Linked DNA regions of Homo sapiens: region 2 is linked to region 1. Evidence: fine-mapped expression QTL. Tissue or cell type: whole blood. Region 1 holds a variant in brackets; the other region holds the start of a gene. All regions are shown on one strand. Distances are between the middles of the regions.

The links. PIP is the estimated chance that this variant, and not a neighbour inherited with it, causes the effect.
Region 2: SLC25A29 starts here. The variant in region 1 is fine-mapped to the expression of SLC25A29 in whole blood (INTERVAL, PIP above 0.99).

What each region holds. Positions count from the first base shown.
Region 1 is chr14:100,628,732-100,631,483 of GRCh38, reverse strand. No RefSeq gene overlaps it. Among named protein-coding and RNA genes, the nearest start is that of LINC00523, 27 kb to the left of the region's middle. The variant C/T (reference allele first, on the strand shown) is at 1,493.
Region 2 is chr14:100,305,481-100,308,106 of GRCh38, reverse strand. It overlaps SLC25A29 (solute carrier family 25 member 29), which reads left to right and starts at 1,663. Exons shown (of 4, transcript NM_001039355.3): 1 at 1,663-1,908. The coding sequence starts at 1,875. It overlaps MIR345 (microRNA 345), which reads right to left and starts at 248; the gene lies at 151-248. RefSeq lists enhancers at 683-852, 883-952, 2,161-2,626 and silencers at 1,043-1,112, 1,203-1,672, 1,733-1,832.

The sequences.
Region 1 (2,752 bases):
GCCTCCCAAAGTGCAAGGATTACAGGCATGAGCCAACATGCCCGGCCTTTTTTACTTTATTTTATTTTATTTTATCACGGTCTTTCTCTGTCACCTAGGCTGGAGTGCAGTGGTGCAATTATGACTCACTGCAGCCTCTAACTCCTGGGCTCAAAGCAATTCTCCTGCCTCAGCCTCCAGAGTAGCTGGGACTCCTGGTGCACACCGCCATGCCCAGGTAATTTTTAAATTTTTTTGTAGAGACAACGTCTCACTACGTTGCCAAGGCTGATCTTGAACTCCTGGCCTCAAGTGGTCCTCCCACCTTGGCCTCCCAAAGCACTCGTGATTACATGCGTGAGCCATTGCACCCAGCAGTTGAAAATATTTGGTGTTACGAATTTGCCAGTGGTAATACTGCTTTGTTTATACCCTGTAAGTATTATTCTCAAGATCATTATTTTTTAAGTATTCTGCAGCTGAAATGCTCACATCTTCTTTGACTCAAGATGTATGTAGTGGAGTGTTAGAGTTTTTTTCATTGTCTTTGGTTTTGTTATTTCTATTGTTGTGTCGTGGGTAGCCAATGAGGCACTGGCAGCATCTGCATGTTGATATTAATTAAGGTCTACTCTGTGGCCTTATACGTGGTCAATGATCATAAATACCCCATCAGGACAGAAAAGGAAGGATAAGCTCCTGTTACAGGGTGCAGACTTTGAGAGGTATCCAAGTTCATAAGGCCGCCTCAGTAGGGCTTGGGGGAGAATTCCAGACTCCTGGGGTCCTCTGAAAGTCGCCCCTGGAAGGTCCTGGTCTTCTGGGTTGCATTTCCTCACCTATGATCAGGCCTCCTGGTGGCCACTTCCATTTTCTTTGTCTTCAGCTGCTTTTCCATTTTGCCCCAGTTCAGTGTTTCTCAAAGTGAGGCCCATAGACCCCTGAGCTGGAATCACCTGGGGTGCCTGCCCACCAACAGCCTTTGGAATTTGGGTCTCAGAGAGTGGGGCCAGGGGTCTGCATATTTCACAAGTGTCTGGTCTGGGGACCCGCTCCAGTTGCTCACAAGGCTCTGGGTAAATCCGATGTTTGCTGCGTTGGCAGTGCATTGGGTGTGGCTAAAGCACCAAGGCCCAGCTCTTTTAGGGCTCAAGGGCAGAGGCCGCAACAAGCCAGGAGCTCCCAGGATGTGGCCGAAGGTCTTGGGAGAGCTGTCGAACCTGACTGTCAGGTCATATGCCCCACACCCTCAGTGATATGTGGGGAGGGGGAACTGTGATGCAGGGTGGGAGATGCTGACCCTGGGGAAGAGCGCGCAGTGAGGGCTGGGGAAGGGGTGTCCTGGTGTCTGTCCAAGTCCTGGTGTCTGATATGACCCTTTCATCGAGCAGGAGGCATCCGTTGCCTGCTATCGGGAGTAGAAGTCCGGGTACCCCTGGATCTTGGTCTCCGAGTCGCCAAGGAATACACGCAGTGAGGCACTGGCTGGAACAAGGCTTTATTCACATGGAGA[C/T]GGGACAGGGCAGGATCAGCTGCAGCGGCGGGCACTGGTCCCCACGGCCAGCGCATCCCTCCCGGCAGCTGAGGCAGGGCCATTGGCCAGCAGTCATCTCTCTTGTGTGGCAGCAGGAGAGCCCTACCCTGCTCCCCGCAGTGGGGGGTTGGCCAGATGCCGTATGACGCACAGGTTTAAGGAGGGCAAAGGAAGGCACAGAGCCTGAATCAGGGAAAAGTCTTCCCACACACAGAAACAAGCCCCACTTAGGCTGTGAGGGCCTCTTTATCTCGGGGAAGGAAGAGTTCCAGGCCCAGCGCCCATTCTTGTGCTGCTGAGAGGGGCAGAAAGGTGCCTGTCCCTACACCTTTGGCTGCAGAAATGGCAGCAGGTGCCCCAGGGCCCGGCCGGTGGGAGGGTTGCTATTCATCTTTGCAGTTATTATCAGACCCTAGAGGGCCGTGATTGCAGACACCCACTGCCTCCAAGTGACTGGCCAACCCCTGCAGAACATCTGTGGGACCGTGGGGCTGTGGGACCACAGGACCCTGGAGCAGACCCGGCCAGTCGGTGTCCCGGCAGATCCCTTCCATCCTGTGTACCCCGTCCCCAGCCTCAGCGAGCTTCTGCTTCAGTGGCCTCCCCCAGGGGTTCTGCTTCAGCTCCTGAAGCTGTGTTGGCTATGGTCCCAGAGAGCCGGATGGCTGGGCAATTACAGCCTCCCGGGGCAGCACTTTGCCACCAACTGGCCAGTGCAGGAGTGTGAAAGCTCCGGCCGGGTCAGGGCGGGCTGGGGTGCACCTTATGCCCCAGGGCTCCCAGTGGAATCAGGCTGGAGTTGTCCTTGAGGGATGTCCTGCCATCGCTCTTCGCTTGGCCTCCTCTCCTTCCCTGTTCTGCTTCCTGCTCCCTCACCAGTTTCTCCGCGGAGTGCCCCCTTCATAGAGCACTCACCCGTGGGGCTCAGTTCAGGGTTTCCTGGAGAAACTGTCCTAAAACACATGAGACATGAGCTTCCGGATGAAGACCCAATCTCCGTGCAAAGGAGACACCAGGAGGGGCACAGAAGGGAGTAAAGGGGCCAGAGACTGGCGGGCGTCAGGGACTTGGCCTCTGAGGACAGGCTCCAAACTCGAGTGGCCCTCCAGCCAGTGGGGACAATGGCAGATGGGGTAGGGAGAGTAACCCAGGGGCTTTTCCTTGATTGTGTGGTCTGGGACTCAACCTCTGTGCAGGAGCCATGGCCTCTTCTGCTGAGTGTCACTGGCTGACCTGCTT
Region 2 (2,626 bases), 320 kb after region 1:
TCCAGCCACCTGAGTAGCCCCACAGCCAGCTCCTGCCCTTTTGGGTCTGGGCTTCTCTTGGGGCCCCCATACCACTGCTTTTCTGGCCCATGGGCCACTCTCCCCCATCCGCACACCTGCCTCCCTGAGGCAACCAAGTGGGTCAGAGAGGCTGTCGATATTCAAACCCAGGCCTCCAGACCCCTCGTTCAGGGCCCACCAGCCATCACGAGCCCTGGACTAGGAGTCAGCAGACCTAGGGTTTGGGTCTCTGCTTAACATTCTACTTAGACTCTAAAAGGAAACTAACATGAGCACTGGGGACCCCTGCCCCTAGCACCAGGCTGCACTACTGACAACACCTACCTGTGTGTCCTAGTACCAAATACACAGAACCTTTCGACCTGCACCTCCAGGAGGTAGGTACCCACTGGAATTTGGATAAAAGAACCATGTGACCCTAAACCTGGAAACGTGGCACACGGTGTGGCCTTGCCTGCCTGCAGGCCCTAAAGAAGGAAGCTGGGCCCGGCCTAAGGCTGATCTGACTCCTACAGCGAAGAGAAAGCGCCTGGCCCGTCCCTGCTCCCAGGCTCCAACCTGACAGTCTGGACCTCCAGAGGCGCTGGGGAAGGGCTGGTGGGAAGTCACCGAATGGGACGCTCCACAGGGACCAGGGCAGTCCCTTGCCACTGCGAATGTCAGGGACTCCTGGGGGGCCGAGTCAGACTCGGCTCTCATTCATCCCCGCAGCCCATGGATACCCTGGTGACCCAGAGCCAAGCACCCTCCGACTTCAGCGCCTGAGCGCGGCCCCTACCGAGCCCCTCCGGTCTCGCCCCGTCCGGCCGCCGCTGACGGAGGCGCTGCGATCTGGCCCGACTCCACTCTGCAGCCCAGTCCAGGAACCTCCCTCTCTCCACAACCTTCCGCGGCTCCCGCGACCCGCAGTCCTCGGGAAGGAGCTGTGGCCCGAAGGCCTGCTGCGCCCTTTGCCCATGGCCCCTTTCCCTTTTAAGGTTCCCTGCTCTCCGCCCAAATCCCAGCCTCAGGCTCCGCAGGAAGCGCCCGTGCGCGTCCGACCCCCAGAACCCGGCGGGTTCGGCCAGGAGTCCGGAAGCCCCGGAGGCCACCGCCGCCGCGGGCGCGCAGGCGGGACGGGCAGAGGCTCCCCACGGGCGATTCCCGCTCGCGGAGTTTCGCAACTAGCGGCGTCCCAGTCTGCGGGCCTCGGAACGTCCCGGCGCTCCACGGCCGTTTTCGCGGCAGGGTCCGCACGGCACAGACTAGGGCGCTGAGGTTCTGCGGCGGCGCCGGACTCCGAACCCAGGGTCCGGTTCCCGACCCGGTCCAGACCAGAGCCACCCCGCGTACTCCGGGTGGGGGAGTCCTCGGCTCAACCCCGCCACCCCGCGCGTCCCCTCCCGCCGGACCTGCGCACCCAGCGCGCTCTTTGTCTGAGGCGTCCCCGCGCCCCGCCCGCGCGCCCACCACGTCCCCCGCGCCCCGCCTCCCGCGCACGCCCGGCCAATGAGGCGCGGCGGCGAAGCGCAGTGCCCGGGGTGTTGTCCGCGCCGTGCCCGCCCATTGGCCTCACTCGGCGCCCCCACCCGGGCCCTGCCGGCAGGCACGAGGGGCGGGGCGCGCGGCCCGAGGTGAGGGACCGCGGGCCGGAGGGGATCCAGCGAGTCAGCTGCCGCCGAGGGACCAGCGCGGGTCTAGCTGCTGCCGCCATCCCCACCATCCCTGACCGCGCCTGCCCGGGCTCCGCGCCAGGAGGAGCGGCCAGGCCCAGCCCCGGCACCGCGCGCTCGGGGACCCCGACGGCGCCCAGCCCGGCGAGGGGCCTCAGGGGGAGGACGAGGAGGAAAGGCGGCCTCGCCGGGGACCCGGCCATGGCGCTGGACTTCTTGGCTGGATGCGCGGGGGGTAAGGAGGCGGCGGGCCGGGCCGGGCCGGGGCGAGGCGTCCGGGGAGGGAGGTCGGCCCACCAGCACGCCCTGGCCTCGCGGCTTCCCGCTGGCGGGGGTCGCCGCGTCTGTGAATGGGGACCACAGTTCTCTTGCCTCGGGCGGGTCTCGTGGGCGTAAATTGACTTCAGGCCCGGGCTGTCCGCGAGGGCAGGTGTCTTTATTCTCTCTGGGCACGCTCGGACGGGAGGTCTGGGGCGCCGGGGCAGCACCGTGGCTGAGCGGAGGCCAGGACTGCCGGGAGGATGCCCCACTGCCCCCCGCGCCGAGGTCCCGGGCTCATCTCCTTCCCCTCCCCCATCCCCATCCGTTGCGCACTGGGAGCAGGGTCCCCTCCCCCGGCCGTATATTTCGGGACTGACTCCACCCCGTCCCGCGCAGCCATCCAGCGGGGTTGGGGCTACGGAGCCGACCCCCTACTCGGCTGGCCTTGGAGGGCACTGAACCACTCTGGCGCCGAGTCACGCCTTGGAACGCCGCCCCTTCCTACGCGGTTTTGTGAGCTGTTGGGGGCGGAAGGGGGGTGGTGGGTGGGTCGGGCGAGCCGGTGTGGGGCACCTTCTCCGAGGCGCGGTCGCGGCTCTGGGGTTCCTCCCATGCAGTTGTCCCCGGGAGGGCCCGGGCGGGCGTGCAGTCCAGGCTCTCCCATGCCCCGACCGTGGGCGTCGGGCACGGCA